Linked DNA regions of Homo sapiens. The protein of the gene in region 3 purifies or fractionates together with the protein of the main gene of each other region. This does not show direct contact. Each region holds a gene or a part of one and is shown on either strand. Other genes may lie near its edges. The genes, in order: QSER1, CCHCR1, MAGEA10 and FOXJ2.

Region 1 (7,283 bases), on a different chromosome or scaffold from region 3:
TCCTGCCCCCGCCTCTCCCTCCACACCTCCCCTCAAGCTGAGGGAGCCGGCTCTGGCCTTGGCCAGCCCGGAAAGGGGCTCCCACAGTGCAGCAGTGGGCTGAAGGGCTCCTCAAGTGTGGCCAGAGTGGGCGCCAAGGCCTAGGAGGCGCCGAGAGCAAGCGAGGGCTGCCAGCACGCTGTCACCTCTCAGGACTACAGGTGCACCACCATGCCTGGCTAATTTTTATTTCCTTTCTGATGTTTTAATTTAATTTATGATGTTGACCTAAGAGATGGAAACCAGGGCTGCTCTGGCAAAGACAGGGCTTATAGTTTCCCTCAATGCCAGAAGAGAAGGGAAAAATTTAAAACCATATCTTCTTTCCCTGTTCAAATCACTTCTCACACACATATTCCTTGTATTCTCAGTGAAACCACAAACTTGACCTTCTTGGATCTTTCTTCTTGATGGTTGGTCTATTTATAACATAGGAATGTGTGGACTTACTGACTACATTTCTAGTTAGGCAACCCCAAATTCTGCATTTCCCAACAAGCTAATGAACAAGGCCACCTCAGTGAAGATGGGGTTTCCTGGGTCTCACCCCAACTGATTCCCTCCATCATCTTAAAGCAAGTCACTCAATACCAGGCCTCAGCTTCCTCAACTACAAAAGGAAGGCAATGAACTATGTACTCAATAGAACTACAATCTTTCTACCAGTTGAAATACTTATTTTCTTTTTTTTTTTTTTTTGAGAGGCAAAATCAATTACTTCCTTTTCAATTGTCCTCTGGTGCTTTATTCCAATTTCTATTATATTTAACACTATCCTATTGCATTACAATTAGTTGTGTGTCTGCCTCTTTTCCTCATAAATTACAGGTTCCATAAAGACAGGCGTTGTATTAAATTTACCCTCGTATTCACAGCATTTAGTATTATGCTTGGCACTGTATTAGGCTCTAAATACATATCTATTGAATGAATAAATATGTAAGCTACTTTAAAAATGCCCATTCAGGCTGGATGCGGTGGCTCATGCCTGTAATCCCAGCACTTTGGGAGGCTGAGGTGGGCATATCACGAGGTCAGGAGATCGAGACCATCCTGGCTAACACGACGAAACCTCGTCTCTACTAAAAATACAAAAAATTAGCTGGGCGTGGTGGCGGGCACCTGTAGTCCCAGCTACTCGGGAGGCTTAGGCAGGAGAATGGCGTAAAACCCAGGAGGCAGAGCTTGCAGTGAGCCGAAATCGCGCCACTGCACTCCAGCCTGGGCGACAGAGCAAGACGCTATCTAAGAAAAAAAAATGCCCATTCAGAAGTTCCAATTAGTCATTTACATATTCCTTTCCTTTCCCCCCCAAAAAAGAAAAACCAAAACACTCTATCTCAATTCTAAAATCGGGGCAAGATTTGAAAATTGATTAAATCAAAGGCAGTTTGGTTTTAAGATGAATTGGAGTAAATCCTACACTTAAGAAGGAATCTTCCAGCACTTTGGAAGGCTGAGGTGGGAGGATTGCTTGAGGCCAGGAGCTCAAGACCAGCCTTGGACACCATAGCGAGACCCTGTCTGAAAAAAAACAAAAAAAACTCTTTCCTTCTTCCTCACCTCCATCTCCCACTTCCTTCTGAGTTTATTGTCTAGAGTTAGTCATGCCTTAGAACATGCCCATGAACAATCTCCCCACATTTTCCACCCTAACTCCCATCCCATTAGAAAATCAATACGTATTTCACAGGTCGCGGTGGCTCACGCCTGTAATCCCAGAACTTTGGGAGGCTGAGGCAGGCGGATCATCTGAGGTCAAGAGTTCGAGACTAGCCTGGCCAAAATGGTGAAACCCGTCTCTACTAAAAATACAAAAAAATTAGCTGGGCGTGGTGGCATGCGCCTGTATTCCCAGCTACTCAGGAGGCTGAGGCAGGAGAATCGCTTGAATCCGGGAGGCGGAGGTTGCAGTGAGACGAGATCACCCCACTGCACTCAAGCCTGGGCGACAGAGCGAGACTGTCTGAAAAAACGAACAAACAAAAACACGGGACCAACAATGCTCATTCTAGAGTTTGACATTACCTAGATCAGACTTGAAGCAGCTTGGTTACGAATCATTTGAGAGATCCCGAAACGTTCACAGAGCTGGAAGTATATTTTCAGTAGGGAAGAAGACATTCTTCAGATAGTATCATCAAGTGTACAAAATTTTTAAAAGATTTATTTACATATATCAAAGCATCACATTGTACCCCATAAATGTATGCAATTATGATTTGTCAATTAAAAATAGTATTGATAAAAAATGTAATGATGTTATTTGTAGACATGTAACATTTGAAAATAAATATAATTGTACTGATTTAGAGTGAACTAAGGAAATTTCATTTAAATGGCAAAGGAACATATGGTGACAGAGTAATATTACTAAAAATACTCACTAGAATTTTCCCTTAATATCTTTCCCTGATTTATGTGACATAAACAAACTACATAATGGTGTGAGGGACTATAAAGGTTTTATTGCCACTTGTTTGGTATTGCCTGCGTAACTCACTCTGAGTGCCAGTTGTGGGTATCTCAAACTAAGTGTCATAAAACATTTATAGCATGCCACTCCATTTCCTATACTTTTCATAGAGACAAAACTTTAGCGCTCACAAAAGTACTTATAAATATAATAGCTAGTTGTGAAAACTTTTTAATTTAGATCCCACATTTCCAGTTTGCAGGAAGAAAAATAAATGTAATGAAGATTTACGTTACTTCTCTGCATGAACTCAGATTAGTTCGCAAATTCCTTTTCAAAGAAAAACCACTTTTCAAAGATATCCTCAGTAAATGCATTTTGTAATTAACATAAAATTGGCAAAGTCGCTGTGCCTACACGTTTGAATTCATGTGTAAATAACGACTACTCACTTCCTTGCTTCCCCACCCGGGGACCAGGCTCCAAGCATCACAGGTGCAGAAAGACTTGCAAAAAGGAATGAATAGGAACAAAAGGATGTAGGCGCCAGGAGGAAAACAGGATCTTCCAGAACAAAATTAATCTCGCAAGGCATAGCAGATCCAACACCAGATTATTACCAAAGTTTAAACTTTTTCAATGGTCATCAGAGATAGCGTATCAAGTTTATTAGGTCTTTCACTACGGCTGATTTGCTTAAACCTTTATGTTATGCTTATCTTGAGGGATAGATTTCTGTGCTAAGCACATAATAGGTGTTAAACCAATATTGATTTTTAAAAGGAGGTGGTCATTAAATAGAAATTTTACTGTTATTTTAACCTTTAAATTTATGGCCCAAGGGCCAAACGATGATTTGTACGATTCCCTAGTTTCAATACTTGTGAGTTATTACAAGAAATACAACTCTGCTATGCAACAGAAGAACCGCAAATAGTCATTAAATTACCGCACACCAAGCAGCTTGGAGATCAGATAGGAAATGTTTGGGGAGAGAGTCCTGCTGAAGTTCCAAGTCTCAAACAAAACCCCTCAACATCAGAGTGCATGGTGAGTTTAAATTTATTGTAATTAAAGTCATCCAGATGGTAGTTGGATTAATCAATGAAGAGGTGGTTATCTATCTTGGGATAGAAGATTCTGAAACCCAGAGCGAGAAAAATCCCCAAGGTGGGGGTGGGGACAGTTAATAAGAGCCCTTGGGAAAGGCCCTTTCAGCGAGGATTGGAAAATAATACGTTTGAATTTGAATCTCTTTGAATATAAATCTCCCCTAACAGCAGGAAAAGGGTCCTCTAGCCCAGCAAGCTTTGGGGAGGGAGTAAGCGGAACTGCAAAAGAGCTCGCTCAGCTGTTTCTGGATTGGGGCGCAGAGAAAGAAATCGCGATCAGGGAACTGAGTACTGGAGTCCCTCAAAATAACCCGAAGGGTCAAATAGTGAGCTCCAAGCAAAGCGTTGACCCGGCTACCCCTGAGCAGCGCCCTACGCTGGGTTCCACTCCACTTCCCCTCCCCCGCGCGGGGCGATAGCCAGGCGCGGTCCCTTCCCACGCGGGCCGCGGCGAGTGCGGACAGCTCCCTTCCGGGCTGCGGAAGGCGGGAAGTCTGCGGTTCGCGGGCTCCGGCTGGCGGGCGCCCCTCGGAGTCCCTGAAGTCGGCCGGGCCCCGCAGGACCCGCGCCTTCTCGGCCCCAACTGTCCCTCGCGAAGCGTCCTGCGGTGGCGGAGGCCTCGCGGCCGCCCGCCAGCCCCGCGAGCGGCAAGCGCGGGGCTCAGAGGGGAGGCGGGGCAAGGCCGCGGGGCGGAGGGGGGCGGGAGGTGCATCCTGGGAAATCCACCAACATGGGGCGCAGCGGCCGCCGCCGCCGCCGCCGTCGCCGCGAGTCCCGGCCGCGGGTGCCTCCGCTTCCCTGACGCCCAGCTGGGGCCTCGCCGCCCGCCGCGGCCCGGGTCTTTGCGGCCCAGACTCGCCAGCGCGCCCTTCTCCCGCCTGCTCGCCGGGGCCATGTGAGGGGGCAGCTCCCTCCACCGCCGCCGCCCCCTCTTCCTCCCCCGCCCCCTCTCCCTGCCCGCCCCCGTCACACGGAGCCCTGGAGGATCCCCCGCTGCTGCCCGCCCTCCCTACGCCACCCCCACGATGGACAGGAACTACGCGACCTCGGGCTTCACCGAGCCGCCGCCGCCGCCGCCGCCCGCGCCCCCCGCCGCCCCCGTCCCCGCCAGCGCCGCTGCGCAGCCCCCCGCCCCAGCCTGGGCGTACGAACCCCGAGCCGCCGCCGCCGCCGCCAGCAGCAGCTGCAGCAGTGGCAGCTGCAGTAGCGGCAGCAGCCCCAGCCTCAAGGCCAGGTAGGGAGGGTGGGCGGCGGGGTCGCGGTGGACCAGGAAAGGCCGGGGATGCGTTTGGGGCCTTCGCTCGGTTGCAGCGCCGCCCAGAGGTCTGGGCCGGGCGGGGAGCCCTCCGCTCGCCCTCGGCCAGCTCGGGGGAGGCGGCTGATGACTCCTACGGGGTGGTCGCGGGTAGGTGGGGGCGCCCGGTGCAGGATTCGCGCCTGGGGACGGCGGGTGAAGGAATAGCTGGGCGGGAGTCGTGGGGCTCCGTCACCTCTTGGGTCCTGGGCTCTCACATGGTGAAGTTTGGGCTCGTGGCTGAACTCGGGATCTGTGAGACCCAGGATTGGCGCCGGGGGTCCGAAGGGGGCGCCGGAGAGTTTGGGGCAGTGGCGATCCATTGTATTGGAACCTGGGTGGCCGACAATGCGGTCTTGGGGACTCCGGCGTGTGAGGGTTGCGGAGGCGGGAGAGGAAGAGTCGCGGAACCGCGTCCCGGAGACACTGGGGGGCCCGGGAGGGCTGGGCTACGGGAGAATCCCCGGGGCGCAGGGCAGAAGAGGGGGCCCGGCAGGGCGCGAACGCGGCTCCAGGGCCGGGTGACATATGTTTGCGCTGGTGGCCAAGATTTAGGCGATTTTTCTTCCACGCGTTCAAAGTTGCTCTTAGGTTTCCTCCCCTTTTAACAACAGCAGGAAGTAAGGAATCTTTCTTTGCCTTCTATGCCTCGGGGTGACTGAGAGTTGGGAAGAAATGGGGCGGGGGTTGGGGTGGGGGTAGTGAAGGCCGTAAAGGTTGAAGAACCAAAGCATGCTTCTCCATCTCGGCCTTTAAGGTCCGGGTGCATTATGTAGCGTGGGGTTCAAGAGTTCATCTTGCATGACCAAGGGAATCTAAAATTTTGACTCCTACTTGATATTTAAGCTCGCGGGAAATGTGTAGTAGTGCCACACTGTGAAACGGTCCCATTTGAATGATAACTGGAAGGCGTGGTCTGGTTTGGAGAATTGGTGAGCGGGGTGTTTTAAAGCCACCTCTCCCGAACAATACAGAATCTGGTAGGTGCAGCTTCTGATTACATGGACCAGGGAATCCTGGGTTGCTAATGACTTCATCCTCAGCTACCAACAGGAAGCTTCGTGGCTTTATGATCTCATCAGATTTCTTCATTATTTTTCACGACAGAAGTGAACTTTTGTTTTAAGTTTATACATTACCGTGTTCCAGGTTATCTTCTTTGTTTTTACGAAAGTTCTACGTTCATGATTGAGCAAATAAGTGTGAAGGGTAGCTGGTCTTTGTCTTAGATTGTCCATTGGGACGATTGTGAAAGAATGAGAAAAATTTGCTTCAAGAATAGGAATATAAGCTTTCTCAGAAAATTTTAGGCCCTTTGTTTTCAAGACTTGGGAGTTAACAAAAATAATGTGATGTGCCAATTTGGAGCTAAGTAATTAAATGCTGAAACCTTTCAGAAATAGCCATAATTTTGTATTACATACAAGTAAGCCATTTTAAGGAGTTTCATGAAAGACGTTTGGCACTTCACCCATTATTTCTTGCTGATGGTAATTTGACTATCTTTTTCAAGTAGCTTTTTGCATTGACTAGGATAATTTACAAATGAAAATTACTTTCTCATCATTGAACAGCATGATAGGTATTTGTGCCGCATTTTTTATCTTTTAAATGAAAAATATTTATTAGGTAAATGGAACTGAAATACTACCTAGTTACTTCTTTTAGTAGAATACTTCTGAGGCAAGAAACTAAAATCTACTTGTCATATTTTCCAAATGTTATTTATCAGAGTAACACGAAATGACTTCCCAAACACACTTGAAAACAGTAAGTAGATTCACTTGGCACACATAATCTAAAGGAGATTTATTTTCTGTTTACTAGAAGTTATTGAATCTTAAATATTACCCCTCATGCCCTCTCCCCCTGCTTTTTTAAAAAATAAGCGGTGGGGGGAATCAGCTAAAATACAGCATAGAAAATGCAGGTTTACCCCCCTCCCCCGCCAGCCTGCTTTGTTAACATCTTGTATTGGGATCAGGCCATCTGTACAGAGTTACACTTCTGAATTATACCTCATTTTATTCCTCAAACTGTGCAAATATTCCCTTTGATTTCAGTTATATCAAAAATGGCAAATCTGAAATATGCCTTGTAAGTCTAAATATTCTACACTTCAGAAGCTTATTTATATTTTTATACCATTTTAAAAAGCTTTTTCATAATGCACATATCAGTTGAATGTTTTTGTTCCCCTTTGTGGCAGTTTCTTGTGAAGGTGCAAATGAGTACTAGTTGTGATGATGTAATATGGATACTTATCCATAAAGAATTAGCCTGTCTGTCACCTTGTTTCCTGTAACCTATTCAGAAGCTGACAGATGGTAATGACATTCAGTTGTTGCCGACAGGGATCTAACATCCTACTTTATGCCTTCTTGGTCTTGAAATACATCATTTTCATCAGTTGATGGGAAGG
Region 2 (5,905 bases), on a different chromosome or scaffold from region 3:
CTCCACTACACCCGGCTAATTTTTGCATTTTTAGTAGGGACGGGGTTTCACCATGTTGGCCAGGCTGGTCTTGAACTCCTGACCTCAGGTGATCCACCCACCTCAGCCTCCCAAAGTGCTGGAATTATAGGTGTGAGCCACTGCACCTGGCCTAGTCTATTTATTTAAAGCTATATACTTACTTGCTTATTATATACTTAACTTGCTTACTATTCCATCTAAAATGTAAGCCAGTTAGTTTCCTTCTAAATCAATTGCCAGCCTTTGTCTCTCCTACCAACTTCCTAGTTGTTTCATTACCTACAATTGTTGTATGACCTTCAGAAAAACCTCTAAGAAAACAGCAAAGCTTCTTTGTGCTGGTGATGACTTCCCCTCAGCCTTAGACACTGAGGTACCCAAGGCAGGTAGTTCTTTTTTTTTTTTTTTTTTTTTTTGAGACAGAGTCTCGCACTGTCACCCAGGCTGGAGTGCAATGGCACGATCTCAGCTCACTGCAACCTCTGCCTCCCGGGTTCACACGATTTTCCTGCCTCAGCCTCCTGAGTAGCTGGGATTACAGGTGCACACCACCACACCCGGCTACTTTTTTGTATTTTTAGTAGAGACAGGGTTTCACTGTGTTGGCCAGGCTGGTCTCAAACTTCTGACCTCGTGATCCGCCCGCCTCGGCCTCCCAAAGTGCTGGGATTACAGGCTTGAGCCACCGTGCCTGGCCGGCAGGTAGTTCTTAGCACAGTCTCTGGCTTGTAAATGTTTATTGTTATCGTGAGGCTCTTCTTGATGGGTTAATTTAGATAAAGATAATTTTTGGTTTAGCGAAATTAAGATGCAGGATGAGTCCTTGCCCATCACTTCCTTCTCTTGGATTTGTACCTTAGGGACTAATTTAGCTTTAAAAATTATGAAAAATTTCAAACTTGCACGGAATTAAACTAGTTATAATGACCTACCACCCAGGTTCAATCCATCGCGGGTGCCCCCTACCTCCAGGAGAACAGAAAGATGCACTGTGGACAGGGTTTGACTTTGGTACCAGGCGATCACAGAAATGGTCTGTGTAATGATGCATTTGCCGAAAGTCCTCCAGGCTTAAAGCAGTCCAAACTCTGATTGTTGCTGGGTTTATTAGATTGTCTCTAGGTAATTGGAGACTTTAATAAGGGCTGTGGTAGGTGTTGGAAGCATCTACTGGAACAATTTCCAGATCAAAGTGAACTTTGCTGTGCTGCTGGGGATGCAGCTGCAAGCCTTCATCATCATGTGTTTTTCTGTGGGTGCAGACCTGGACTCTCCTGAGGAAACCCCAGCCCGGCCCCAGACACTCCTTGGCCTCCTCCTGGGGCCTGTTTAAGCTGCTCAGTTTTCATGAGCCAGGTTGGTCCTACTTCTGGCACAGCCAGCTGGTAAAGCATGTGGACCTGCCCGTCATTGGTGCTAGATCGACACTCCTGGGCTTGGAGAGGATAACTTTGTTTTCTTTTGTTTTTTTGAGATGGAGTCTCGCTCTGTCACCCAGTCTTGAGGGCAGGGGTGCGATCTTGGCTCACTGGAACCTCCACCTCCTAGGTTCAAGTGATTCTCGTGCCTCAGCTTCTGGAGTAGCTGGGATTACAGGCATGAGCCACCATGCCCGGCTAATTTTTGTGTTTTTAAGTAGAGAGAGTTTCACCATGTTGGCCAGGCTAGTCTCCAATTCCTGACTTCAGGTGATCCGCCCGCCTCGGCCTCCCAAAGTGCTGGGATTACAGGCAGGAGCCACTGCCCCTGATCAGAGAGGATAACTTTACTCTTTGATACACGATAGTGAGCAAAACACAGTTGTGAGAAATAAGCTTAACAGGTTGCTTAAAAAGATAGTCATTTAATGCATTCTTGGGGCAAGGGTCCTTTAGATAATTGACGGAAGCTGTGCGTTCTGTACTTGTATAATGGGACAGGATTAGAGGGAGTTGTCTATACAAGGCACAGCAAGTCCTTTGGGAATGAGGGGAGGCATGGAGGATCAGTGACTTGTGCCCTCTCCAGCTCTCAGATCTGGCTCGAGACCACCATGGCTAAGGTGGAAGGGGCTGCCGCCCAGCTTCCCAGCCTCAACAACCGACTCAGCTATGCTGTCCGCAAGGTCCACACCATTCGGGGTGCGTAGGACAACTGCGAGCCACGTCCTGCCCCCACCCCACCAGCTCGGACTTTCTTCTTCCTGACCCAGCTCTCTCTGATCCCACATCCATTCACCTTCCTCCTTTCACCAGTCCTTGCATCTCTTTTTCCCTTACTCCCTGTCCCCACTTTCTCCCATGCAAACTTCATCTCTTTTTCTCCCTGCTTTTTCCCCTCCAGGCCTGATTGCTCGAAAGCTTGCCCTTGCTCAGCTGCGCCAGGAGAGGTGAAGTTTGGGCACTTTGAGGTGGATGGGGCTTTAGGGCATTGGCTGCTGGGACCCCCAAAACCATGAGGACTGAGGTGGGATGGGGGCTTTGGGATCAGGCAGCTGGGTGATTTCTTCTGACTCTTTCTCTTCCCCGTCCCAGCTGTCCCCTACCACCACCGGTCACAGACGTGAGCCTTGAGTTGCAGCAGTTGCGGGAAGAACGGAACCGCCTGGATGCAGAACTGCAGCTGAGTGCCCGCCTCATCCAGCAGGAGGTGGGCCGGGCTCGGGAGCAAGGTACACCTGGTTGCCAGGGGGTGGAGAGGATGAGGAAAAACCCGGTGTCTAGGGTGCTGGGAGAGGCCTGACCCAGCACCCCCTCCTTTTAGGGGAGGCAGAGCGGCAGCAGCTGAGCAAGGTGGCCCAGCAGCTGGAGCAGGAGCTGCAGCAGACCCAGGAGTCCCTGGCTAGCTTGGGGCTGCAGCTGGAGGTAGCACGCCAGGGCCAGCAGGAGAGCACAGAGGAGGCTGCCAGTCTGCGGCAGGAGCTGACCCAGCAGCAGGAACTCTACGGGCAAGGTGTCGAGAGGGAAATGGGTGCTTCCCTTGGAGGGTGGGGTGGGAACTGCGAATCAAAGCTCCTGCTGATATGCCCCGTCTGCACTTTCACCCCAGCCCTGCAAGAAAAGGTGGCTGAAGTGGAAACTCGGCTGCGGGAGCAACTCTCAGACACAGAGAGGAGGCTGAACGAGGCTCGGAGGGAGCATGCCAAGGCCGGTGAGCCTTGCCAGGGTGGATAGGGCCTTCCAGGAAGAAGGAAGTGTTAAGACATAAGGTTATTATTTTCCCCTCAAAGTGTGTTCAAAGCTTCATTACAGGAAGTAATGAAGGTATCCAGGAGTAGCACAGATGAATTATCACATCGTGAACACACCCATGTAGCCAGCACCAGATTAAGAAACAGCATATGGCCGGTCGCGGTGGCTTATGCCTGTAATCCAAGCACTTTGGGAGGCCGAGGTGGGTGTATCACCTGAGGTCAGGAGTTTGAGGCCAGCCTGGACAACATGGCGAAACCCTGTCTCGACTAAAAATACAAAAATTAGCTAGGCCTGGTGGTGGGCACCTGTACCCCAAGCTTACTTGTGAGGCTGATGTGGGAAGACTACATGAACCCGGGAGGTCGAGGCTGCAGTGAGCCAAGATTGTGCCACTGCACTCAAGCCTGGGTGATAGAGAAAGACCATGTGTCAAAAAAAGAATTGTGTAATGAATGTATCTTCTCTAACTAAATATAGCAGTTAACATTTGCCACATTTGGTCTCTTATCTATATACACACATATTTGTACATCTTTTGAATCACTTTAAGTTGTAATCATTTAATGTTTTGTTGTTGTTGTTGTTTGAGACAGAGTCTTCCTCTGTCACCAGCTGGAGTGCAGTGGCATGATCTTGGCTCACTGTGACCTCTGCCTCCCGGGTTCAAGCCATTCTCCTGGCTCAGCCTCCCAAGTAGCTGGGATTACAGGCGCCCACCACCATGCCCAGCTAGTTTTTGTATTTGCAGTAGAGACGGGATTACACCATGTTGGCCAGGATGGTCTCGAGCTCCTAACCTCGTGATCCGCCCGCCTTGGCATCCCAAAGTGCTGGGATTATAGGCGTGAGCCACCACGCCTAAGTAAGTTGTAAACATAAGTTGTTCAGCCGCATCTCCCAAAGCCAGTAAATTCTCCTATATAGCTGCAATCATCACACTTTAAGACAGTGAACACTAATTGCACAAAATCTAACCCAGTTCATGTTCAGATTTCCCCTGAGGAACTCCAGGATGGTTCAGGGATGAGGAAGATACTTAGGTTCAGATTCCCAGGCTCCTAGAGCATCAGCCCACCCCTCCAACTGTACAGAAGAGACAGATCCACAGAGCAGAACAGCCTCCCCAAGCCACAGAGTTGGTGACCCAGCGTTTGTTCCTGTCTTCATGGTGCCTGGCTGCCTCTGGCCTGACTCACACCTGCCTCCTCTGTGCCTTGGCCTCTCTGTAGTGGTCTCCTTACGCCAGATTCAGCGCAGAGCCGCCCAGGAAAAGGAGCGGAGCCAGGAACTCAGGCGTCTGCAGGAGGAGGCCCGGAAGGAGGAGGGGCAGCGACTGGCCCGGCGCTTGCAGGAGCTAGAGAGGGATAAGAACCTCATGCTGGTAGGAGACAGGAGGGCAGACAGGCAGACACTAGGGCCCATCCTGGGCTGGTTCCTGGGCTAGAGGTGTGGAAAGAGGATGGTGAGGGAGGCTCTATCCGGGCTAGGTTTAACCCTCTCCTTCCCAGGCCACCTTGCAGCAGGAAGGTCTCCTCTCCCGTTACAAGCAGCAGCGACTGTTGACAGTTCTTCCTTCCCTACTGGATAAGAAGAAATCTGTGGTGTCCAGCCCCAGGCCTCCAGAGTGTTCAGCATCTGCACCTGTAGCAGCAGCAGTGCCCACCAGGGAGTCCATAAAAGGTCTTGGGCCAAGCACAAAGGGACAAGGGACAAATGCGCGCACTTCAGGAATCTCCTCTTCAGACTCTCGCATGATGAGTGTTGTTCTCTGCGGTCCTTCGAGGCCCTTAGCCTCTTTTAGCGATGCCCAGCTTGGACCAAAGAGCCTCCTCTCTCCCATTCCTCATTTCCTGTGCCAGCCCTGTTTCCTCTGTAACCACGAGCACCTTCCCTTGTCTGGTGCTCATCTGCTGTCTTCCTTCCCAGGGTCCCTCTCTGTCCTGCTCGATGACCTGCAGGACCTGAGTGAAGCCATTTCCAAAGAGGAAGCTGTTTGTCAAGGAGACAACCTTGACAGATGCTCCAGCTCCAATCCCCAGATGAGCAGCTAAGCAGCTGACAGTTGGAGGGAAAGCCAGCCTGGGGGCTGGGAGGATCCTGGAGAAGTGGGTGGGGACAGACCAGCCCTTCCCCATCCTGGGGTTGCCCTGGGGGATACCAGCTGAGTCTGAATTCTGCTCTAAATAAAGACGACTACAGAAGGAGCCATTGTTTGGAAATGTTATTTCTGGGAATCTGTGGGAATTCTCCCTGCAGCCATCTCTCTTGGAGATTGTGAGAAGTGGTCCCACCCATAGCTCTCTCTATGGGTGGCACCTTTTCAAATCCTTTTTCTAGGCAGCTTTGGAAATGTTTGGGAAGCTCCTGCTTTTCTTTATTCTCAACTTTTGTTTTAAAACTCTTTTCTTCTGGAAGATGATAAATGCTAGGAGTGGGGAAGATGAAACATTCACTCGTTCAACAGGAATGTCAGAGCTAGGCACTGTATTAGCCTGGGGGCCACTTGGACCCTGAGAGCCTACATCCTAGTGGGAGAGCGAGCGAGCAGATGGGACCTAAACAGATGAACGAGATCGTTTCAAATAAGTGCTTGAAGAGAAAGTACAGTACGATGATATGATAGAAACTGACTCTGGGGAGAGGCCTCTGAGCAGGGGACCTTGTGCAGAGGCCTGCCTGAAGTGGGCTCCTGTGGAGGCCAGGAGGTCTCT
Region 3 (2,809 bases):
GCTCCAAAGCGTCAGCGCTGCATGCCTGAAGAAGATCTTCAATCCCAAAGTGAGACACAGGGCCTCGAGGGTGCACAGGCTCCCCTGGCTGTGGAGGAGGATGCTTCATCATCCACTTCCACCAGCTCCTCTTTTCCATCCTCTTTTCCCTCCTCCTCCTCTTCCTCCTCCTCCTCCTGCTATCCTCTAATACCAAGCACCCCAGAGGAGGTTTCTGCTGATGATGAGACACCAAATCCTCCCCAGAGTGCTCAGATAGCCTGCTCCTCCCCCTCGGTCGTTGCTTCCCTTCCATTAGATCAATCTGATGAGGGCTCCAGCAGCCAAAAGGAGGAGAGTCCAAGCACCCTACAGGTCCTGCCAGACAGTGAGTCTTTACCCAGAAGTGAGATAGATGAAAAGGTGACTGATTTGGTGCAGTTTCTGCTCTTCAAGTATCAAATGAAGGAGCCGATCACAAAGGCAGAAATACTGGAGAGTGTCATAAGAAATTATGAAGACCACTTCCCTTTGTTGTTTAGTGAAGCCTCCGAGTGCATGCTGCTGGTCTTTGGCATTGATGTAAAGGAAGTGGATCCCACTGGCCACTCCTTTGTCCTTGTCACCTCCCTGGGCCTCACCTATGATGGGATGCTGAGTGATGTCCAGAGCATGCCCAAGACTGGCATTCTCATACTTATCCTAAGCATAGTCTTCATAGAGGGCTACTGCACCCCTGAGGAGGTCATCTGGGAAGCACTGAATATGATGGGGCTGTATGATGGGATGGAGCACCTCATTTATGGGGAGCCCAGGAAGCTGCTCACCCAAGATTGGGTGCAGGAAAACTACCTGGAGTACCGGCAGGTGCCTGGCAGTGATCCTGCACGGTATGAGTTTCTGTGGGGTCCAAGGGCTCATGCTGAAATTAGGAAGATGAGTCTCCTGAAATTTTTGGCCAAGGTAAATGGGAGTGATCCAAGATCCTTCCCACTGTGGTATGAGGAGGCTTTGAAAGATGAGGAAGAGAGAGCCCAGGACAGAATTGCCACCACAGATGATACTACTGCCATGGCCAGTGCAAGTTCTAGCGCTACAGGTAGCTTCTCCTACCCTGAATAAAGTAAGACAGATTCTTCACTGTGTTTTAAAAGGCAAGTCAAATACCACATGATTTTACTCATATGTGGAATCTAAAAAAAAAAAAAAAAAAAGTTGGTATCATGGAAGTAGAGAGTAGAGCAGTAGTTACATTACAATTAAATAGGAGGAATAAGTTCTAGTGTTCTATTGCACAGTAGGATGACTATAGTTAACATTAAGATATTGTATATTACAAAACAGCTAGAAGGAAGGCTTTTCAATATTGTCACCAAAAAGAAATGATAAATGCATGAGGTGATGGATACACTACCTGATTTGATCATTATACTACATATACATGAATCAGAACATCAAATTGTACCTCATAAATATCTACAATTACATGTCAGTTTTTGTTTATGTTTTTGTTTTTTTTTAATTTATGAAAACAAATGAGAATGGAAATCAATGATGTATGTGGTGGAGGGCCAGGCTGAGGCTGAGGAAAATACAGTGCATAACATCTTTGTCTTACTGTTTTCTTTGGATAACCTGGGGACTTCTTTTCTTTTCTTCTTGGTATTTTATTTTCTTTTTCTTCTTCTTCTTTTTTTTTTTTTAACAAAGTCTCACTCTATTGCTCTGGCAGGAGTGCAGTGGTGCAGTCTCGGCTCACTGCAACTTCCGCCTCCTGGGTTCAAGCGATTCTCCTGCCTCAGTCTCCTGAGTAGCTGGGATTACAAGTGTGCACCACCATACCCGGCTAATTTTGTATTTTTTAGTAGAGATGGGGTTTCACCATGTTGGCCAGGCTGGTCTCAAACTCCTGACCTCAGGTAATCTGCCCGCCTCAGCCTCCCAAAGTGCTGGGATAACAGGTGTGAGCCACTGCACCCAGCCTCTTCTTGGTATTTTAAAATGTTGTTACTTTTACTAGAATGTTTATGAGCTTCAGAATCTAAGGTCACACGTTCGTTTCTGTTTATCCAGTTTAAGAAACAGTTTTGCTATTTTGTAAAACAAATTGGGAACCCTTCCATCATATTTGTAATCTGTAATAAAATAACATGGAATTGGAATAGTAATTTTCTTGGAAATATGAAAAAAATAGTAAAATAGAGAAAATAATTTTAAGTGTTAGTATTTTTATTTCTTTATTATTTTTAGTTTATCATCCTGCAAAATTAAAAGTTATATCCCTGGATCTTGTTAAGTCGAAATTAAACTGTAATAAATGAAACCTTTGCTCACTAGTGCATTTTTTCCCCAAACATCCACTGAGCATCTGGTCTGTGGAAGGCCCTGGGTCTGTAGTGGAAATGTTAAGCCAGAACCACCTTTACCCATAGGGTGGTAGAGTCTAGGGGCTGCAGTCAAGTAACAAGGTGGCAAGATGTCCTCTAAGACCCAGAAGAAAAGTAAGACGGGGTGAGGGTATTGGGCTGTAGGTGAGAGTGGTCACGTACATCCTCTGAGCCAGGACTTTTGGGGCTTTGAGAAACTGCAGTTCCTTCTGGTGAAGATGAATCCAAAGAAGCTGGGTGGTGCCAGGGTCAGAGCCTCACATAGTTGACAGAGCAAATCCTGGGATGTAAAACTGCTCTGAGCAGTTCCTTTTGGGTGGTGGATGAACAGAGAGGAGTCCACCTGGGGCAGGAATGGAAGGTGTTCTGCACTCTTGTCTCAGTGCAGTTGAACTCCTAATTAAATTAAAAAAATAACTAGGTGATAGATACCCATCATATGC
Region 4 (6,903 bases), on a different chromosome or scaffold from region 3:
TAACTGATTCCAGAGAAGCAAGCAGGGTTAGGGAACTCAGTCCAAGCAGGGCCAGTTAAACTGCGTGGCGGTGGTGTACTTGGAGATGTTGTGATATAGTTCACCCTGAGCCATTCAGGCAGGTGCACGCCAGCATCTGGTGAAGTACTTTATAAGAAACAGGCTGCTGTTAACCAGCGAGGCCTCTTTTGTAAAAGGTAGGGGAAGGAGTTCTGGAGTTAGGAGTCAAGGATCCTCATCCTTCTGAGACCAGAGGTATCAGCAATGAAGCTCTCTTATTAGTCCTAGAAGAAATGATCCCAGCCTGAGACTGGGTTGCCCTGCTGCTTAAAGGACTGTCCTGTAGACCGTCACGAGGGCTCCCATTGACTGGGGGGAGGCCAAGCCTTTCCCCTCAGGTGGCCATCCTTACCACCACCTATCCATGTCCTTGTACAGAGGCACCTGCTTCTAGAGGCCCACCAGAAACATACAATTCTAGGTAACTGGAGTATAGTCTGAAAAGCACATAAGTACCTGTCTCCACACACATACCCACTTGAAACAGAGAGCCACATTCACATGAATTAAGAAGTATATGCATGTTGTCCTATAGCACAGCCACACAAACCTGTGCCCTATCTCATATACCACCAGTAGCTTCCAGGACAAATGACTGTACTCAGGAATTTAGGTAGACCTCACCCATGCCCCAGAGAGAGGAGGAAATATGAAAGGCCAAGTCAGATGAAGCCTCCTTCACAACTTGTCCTTGCTGTGAGACAGAAGATAAGGTATCTGCTAATGGTGAGGCAGGAAAGCAGACAACCAGCTAGTGACCTCTCCTAAAAACAGCCTAGGCTTCAGGGGAGGATTTCCTGGTACCCTTTTCCTGCCTTTTCTGAAGATTCTGGACTTTGATAATTCCCTAGCTTATGAAGGAAAACTTTAACACAAGGTTCGAGGGACTCAGAACTGAACAAGAAACAGGAAGGGAGAGGATGAGACTATTAGGTACTTTTCTGGAAGGAAACTTTATATACTCCTCAGAAGTGAAATCTCTCCAGTGGTCAACTTGTTTAACTGGAAGTCTGGACAGAAGCGGAGCAGCAGCCCTCCTCCCTTCGTATCCAGGATCTAATTTTTCCTGAAGAATTGTGAGCAAAAAACAGGAGTCGAGAAGGGGACTGGGGCAGTGGTTCAGGGCCAGCATCAAGGAAGCACTTTAACCCGGGAGTTGGCATTCCCCTGCACACTTTCTTCTCGCCTCAGAACATGTGGGATTCCCATTTTCCCTTTGGATTTTATGGGCAGAGGCATACATCCAGCTAGGAATGGAAATGTCAGGAGAGGAGGCCTCTTGGTATCTGAGATAGGATGAGCAGGAACAGATTGCTTTTCTTGTCAAGGGAGCTATAATTGCAGTAAGCTGGAGGGAACACCTCTGGTGAACACTAAGCTGACCTCGGCATGCCCTGGGCAAGGCCAGGACCCCAGATGCCACCGTGATTTTCATGACAGCCCACTCTCCAGGGGAAAAGGCCCAAGGGTGAAGGGTGGTATGGGAATCTTACCACTGGTTGGGTTGTGTAAATCACTGCTACACAGTATGCATGTTCTCAAAATGCAGCTGTTTTCCGATAACCCTTTTCCTCAGCATGAAAACATCCACTTCCCTAAGGGACCTAAAATGAATCCCATCCCTTTAGTCCCCAAACACTAAGAAACCCATTTCTCAGAGCTTCTGCAGCAAGATGTGGGTTCAAATCCAGGAGCTCCCTTGGATCACATTTCCCATTGGATTTTCTGAGTCATCACTCTGTCTTCCCCGGCAGTGAAACCCACGATCCACCAGCTCAACCCCCTACACCCACTAGTGCCAGACAATGACAGAGAGAAGATGAAAGAAAGCACTAACCTGTCTCCAAGGTTCCTCCGGCAAAGGGAGGGAACCACCTGGTACTGGAGTTTGGGGTTGGAGGGATTCCCCTCTTCAGAGGCAGGTGACGGCTCTCATCCTCAGTGGCTCTTCCTGGACGAGGCTGAGCCTCCCAAGTTGGTGAGGGGAACTGGGTCCCCTGAGGATGAGGAGTCAAGGTTGGAGGAGGGGGAGGGGGAGGAGAAGGAGGTCCTACTTGGGGAAGGTGGCACACCCCCCACACCCTGCTTGTTACCCGGGGGAGGAGGGGAGGAGCCTCTCCCAACCAGGAGTTGTCTCCTCCCCCTTGGGGGAGTTCCCCTCCCCCCCAAACTGGATCTTTCTGAGGTGGAGGGCTCTTTCTGTCTGCTGGAGATAGGAGCGGAGGGGCTCCACCCCGTTCCACTGTCTAGGCACGAGGAAGTTGAGGGGGAGGTCTTCCCCTCTCCAGAAGGCTGAAAGCCGATTCCTCTTCTTTCCCTGGAGTGGCTTCTGAACGTAAGGACTCCTGTCTCCTGTGAATAGTGGTGGGCCGAGGGTGCCTACTCCACAGGCACAGCCCCGTCTCTCTTTGCCTCCAAAGTCCTGAACTGTTGAGAGTGTGTGTTTGGAGGGGCGGGGGCGCGCTAGGGTGGTCTCACTCTGCTTCCCTACGGAAAGCTCCCTTCTTTCCACTTCTGGGGGTCTCCTCCCCGGCCAGTACAGGGGTCTTCCTCGCCTCTAGGCAGGAGAGAGGCGTCCCCTCCAGGGGTCTCTTCTTTCCCTCACCCGAGTGGTAAGGGTCTTTTCTCTCCAACAGGGGGAGAGGTTGCTCGCGTCCCCGCTCCCGCCTCCGCTCCCGGGGTGCCCCAGAGGGTGGGGCTTTCGTACTCCCGGCTGTCCCTGAGCTGGCCTGGGCAGCACGGTCCGGGAGGCCGCGGCTCGAGACTCCGGTCCCTGCTACTGTGGCGGCAGCACCTCCTCTAGGGCCGTCCTGTCGGGTCCGCTCCCTTCGGCGCGTGGGGCTCCCCGCGCTGCCACCGCTCGGGCTCCGACCAGTCTGGGCTCCCGGGGAGCCAGAAGGCGGGCAGACAGTGTCAGGGCTCGGCGCGGGCTCGGGCTCGGCTCGGCTCCGCTGCAGGCCCCGGCTCCTCCCCGGCCTCCGCGCCGCGCTCCGCGCCCCTCCCCCTCCCCCGCCCGCCGGCCGCTGCCGCCACCGCCTCCCGGCGCGGGTTAAGGAGGAGCCGGGAGACGCCGAGCCGCGGGCAGCGCCGAGCCGCGAGCCTCGCTACCCGGTGTGCGCTCCGCCTGGAGAGCCACGGCCGCTCTCACGCCGGCGAGGGATCTCGCCGCCCTCGCCCACCTGCGGCCGCGTGGCTCCGGGAGTTCGCCGTCTACCCGGGATGACAACTCACTGCTCCCCGTCGGGAGAGTCCCTAGTGCGCACCGTATACCGTCAATTCCAGCTGACACCCCAACTCCGGCGTTTCATTCTGTTAAACTCCGTATACAGATGAACAGCCCCAGCTTTCTCAGGACTGTCTTTGATGGGCTTCTCTTTCCCTCGAGATAATTTATAAAGGATCATGAGCATTGAGGTGAAGATTGGGGTGAAGTTTATATGTTACCCTTATATCATCCTGGAATTCAGTAAATGCTCCTTGAATGAGTGGATACATGATAAATGAGCGTGTAACGGTGAAATAAACATCAGAAGATCTGGGTCCTGTTCCTTGTTTCAGCTTCCTAAACTTGTGCATGGCCCTTGTTCTCCGCAATCTTGCTCAGCGAAGAAGGGACCTTGATACTTGGCCTGCTTACCCTTTACAGCTGTCACATCCTGAAGTCATATTATTCTGCTGCAAATTCTCATATATTTCATACTCTGGCTTTTTTTTTTTTTTTTTTTTTTTTTTTGAGGTGTTGTTTCACTTATTGCCCAGGCTGGAGTGCAATGGCACGATCTGGGCCCACTGCAACCTACGCCTCCCGGGTTCAAGCGATTCTTCTGTCTCAGCCTCCCCAGCAGCTGGGATGCCTCAGCCTCCGGAGCAGCTGGGATTACAGGCGCGCGCCACCACGCCCGGCTAATTTTTGTATTTTTAGTAGAGATGGGGTTTCACCAAGTTGGCCAGGCTGGTCTCGAACTCCTGACCTCGTGATCCACCTTCCTCGGCCTCCCAAAGTGCTGGGATTACAGGTGTGAGCCACCGCGCCCGGCCCATACTCAGGCTTTTTAAACTTTTATCAAACTACCCTACTTTCTTTCCTTTCTTTCTTTATCTTTTTCTTCTTTTTAAATAGAGGCAGGGTCTCAGTATGCTGCCGAGGCTGGTCTTTAATTCCTGGGTTTAAACTATTCTCCCTTTTTATGCCTCCAAAGTGCTGGGATTACAGGCAGGAAACACGGCCCGGCCTACTCTCTACTTTATAGCACATAAGATAATAGGAGGCCAGGCGCAGTGGCTCACGCCCGTAATCCCAAAGCTTTGGGAGGCCGAGGCGGGGGGATCACTTGAAGTCAGGAATTGGAGACCAGCCTGGCCAACGTGGTGAAACCCCTGTCTCTACTAAAAATACAAAAATTAGCCCGGCGCGGTGGCGGACGCCTGTAGTGCCGGCTAAGGCAGGAGAATCGCTTGAACCCGGAAAGCGGTGGTTGCAGTGAGCCGAGACCGCGCCACTCCACTCCAGCCTGGGCGACAGAGCCAGGTTCCGTCTAAAAAAAAAAAAAAAAAAAAAGAATTAGCCAGGCGTGGTAGTGCGTGCCTGTAATCCCAGCTACCTGGGAGGCTGAGGCAGGAGAATCACTTGAAACTGGGAGACGGAGGTTGCAGTAAGCCCAGATCGTGCCGCTGCACTCCAGCCTGGGAGACAGTGAGACACCGTCTCAAAAAAAAAAAAAAAAAAAGATAATACGAATACAAAAATATTGCTTGCAAAATATTTGAATTGCCCCCAAAAGACTGCATACTTAAGTTGTATGTATATATTATATGAATAATTATATTTACAATATGCCAGGCATTGCACTGAGCATTCTGCATGTGTTGTCACATTGATGATTCTAGCGATTCCCTAAGACACTATTATTATACTTCTTTTACAGATGAGAAAATTGTGACTTACAGATACTATGTGTGAGTTCGCTTAATTAGTAAGTAGCAGAGTCAGGACTTAAATCCAAATGACTCCGATGCCCAGCTCTTGACTTCTATACCATTGTCCGGAGCGATCAGAATTTAAAGTCATCCTCAAAATTAAAGGCAGTAAACCAAAACAAGCCTGTTCTTCCTGCTCACACTTCCTATATTCAGGTTTAAAGATGTATTTTTCCTCTCTTTGAGGCATTAAATAATTCTCCCACACGCAGATAATTTGGCGGCAAATCTTTCTTGCTATGTATTAGATGTTTTGTTATGTTTCAACCGTTTTTGACATTTCCTGTGTATGGAAATTGGAGGGCTTGAGTGACAGGCAGTTGTACTAAAAATGGAAACATGAGGGAAGGATTAGAATCTTCCTGGCAATTTGGAAAAATAAAAAGCTCAAGAAATTATTTGGTTTTTACAAGACATTTGCTGCAGTATTTTTTGTAACTGGAAAATTAGAAAAGACCTAAATATCCAAAATAGGGTAATTTTAAATATATTATGGCACATCTGTACAACAGAGTACTATTTAGCATTTGCAAGAATAATTGTATTTATCTCTGAAAGGTAGAGTGAGTGGAGTTGTTTTATTTTTATAATGTTCTTTATCATTTAGATATTTTGCAGTAGGCATACATTATTTTAAAGAACCATTGTTTTATATATCTGACTTATTTGAGTGAGAAAATAATATTTTAAAATTTGTATAATGCAATCATATAGTTGCTTTTTAAAATATATATATGTTCATGCATATATTTGTGTGCATACCAATAGACACATAGAAGATGGATACACACCAAAGATGTGAGTTTATGGATTATTTTAATTTACTTCATTTTTTAATGTATCTATAATTAGTGTTTGTGTAGATTTGCTTATGTAATTTTTAAAATTAAAAGAAACTGACAAGGCTGGTTTGGTATGGTTTTGCCCTAAGATTGGGGGGAAGCACTTACATTCATTCTCACTTTACTTTCTATTAAGGCGGGTAATACGGAGAAGGATTTTTTAAGTCACTGAAACATACAGAAATTAAAATGTAAGGATCCACTCTTCTTTGTAATAAAACATGTTATATAATTATTCATGAGTGTTAATTTACCTTGAGCAAAACTATTCTTTATAAAATTGGAGACTAATATGCTACAACGCACGTTTTGGAAGCACTTATTAGAGACTGTGTATTACGTGAAACAAAAATAGTGGTTCTCAACTGTGAGTCCTAATAATTGTGAGAATTTAGGTAAGTCATTTAACTGCTTTGTGACTCAGTTTCCTCATCAGTAAAATGGGGATAATAATAGTACCTATTTCATAATGTTGTGAAGGGATTATGTGCCTTTATACATGTAATATATTTAGTTAAATGCCTGAAGGAGGAAGGACCTAGAGACTGAGAGGCTTATCAACCAAATGCAATATATGTGGACCAAGAGACATGTCCATCAAATACAATATGTAGACCTTTTGAGGGATCCTGATTAAAACAAAGCAACTGGAAAAAATATTATGAGACAACTGGTAAAATTCCAATACTGAGGGCGATATCAAACAATTATTGTATACTTTAGGTGCTAATGGAATTACCATTTTATGAATATTTATGAATACTAAAGTATTTAGACATGAAATGCCTGAAATTTGCTTCAAAATAATCAAGTAATGGGGGAGAGGAGTACAGATGATAGATGAAAGATTGAACGAATGTTGCTTTTTACAACAGTTTTTTTAAAATGCTATTCTCTGGGCCAGACGTGGTGGCTCATGCCTGTAATCCCAGCACTTTGGGAGGCCAAGGCAGGTGGATCACCTGAGGTCAGGAGTTCAAGACCACCCTGACCAACATGGAGAAACCCCGTCTCTACAAAAATA

Evidence for each region.
Region 1: the proteins of MAGEA10 (region 3) and QSER1 purify together in Homo sapiens (affinity purification with mass spectrometry; 5 studies listed by BioGRID and IntAct, with this or other methods). This does not show direct contact.
Region 2: the proteins of MAGEA10 (region 3) and CCHCR1 purify together in Homo sapiens (affinity purification with mass spectrometry; 4 studies listed by BioGRID and IntAct, with this or other methods). This does not show direct contact.
Region 4: the proteins of MAGEA10 (region 3) and FOXJ2 purify together in Homo sapiens (affinity purification with mass spectrometry; 5 studies listed by BioGRID and IntAct, with this or other methods). This does not show direct contact.

The regions. Positions count from the first base shown.
Region 1 is NC_000011.10:32,888,534-32,895,816, forward strand, and holds the start of QSER1 (glutamine and serine-rich protein 1), read left to right. Parts: upstream 1-4,277; 5' UTR 4,278-4,592; coding exon 4,593-4,801; intron 4,802-7,283. UniProt on the Homo sapiens protein: Plays an essential role in the protection and maintenance of transcriptional and developmental programs.
Region 2 is NC_000006.12:31,141,932-31,147,836, reverse strand, and holds the end of CCHCR1 (coiled-coil alpha-helical rod protein 1), read left to right. Parts: intron 1-2,028; coding exon 2,029-2,141; intron 2,142-2,343; coding exon 2,344-2,389; intron 2,390-2,534; coding exon 2,535-2,671; intron 2,672-2,763; coding exon 2,764-2,952; intron 2,953-3,048; coding exon 3,049-3,150; intron 3,151-4,423; coding exon 4,424-4,575; intron 4,576-4,702; coding exon 4,703-4,874; intron 4,875-5,120; coding exon 5,121-5,245; 3' UTR 5,246-5,398; downstream 5,399-5,905. UniProt on the Homo sapiens protein: May be a regulator of keratinocyte proliferation or differentiation.
Region 3 is NC_000023.11:152,132,803-152,135,611, reverse strand, and holds the end of MAGEA10 (melanoma-associated antigen 10), read left to right. Parts: coding exon 1-1,101; 3' UTR 1,102-2,302; downstream 2,303-2,809. UniProt on the Homo sapiens protein: Not known, though may play a role in embryonal development and tumor transformation or aspects of tumor progression.
Region 4 is NC_000012.12:8,028,828-8,035,730, reverse strand, and holds the start of FOXJ2 (forkhead box protein J2), read right to left. Parts: upstream 3,016-6,903; 5' UTR 1,898-3,015; intron 1,665-1,897; exon of another isoform or gene 1,554-1,664; intron 1-1,553.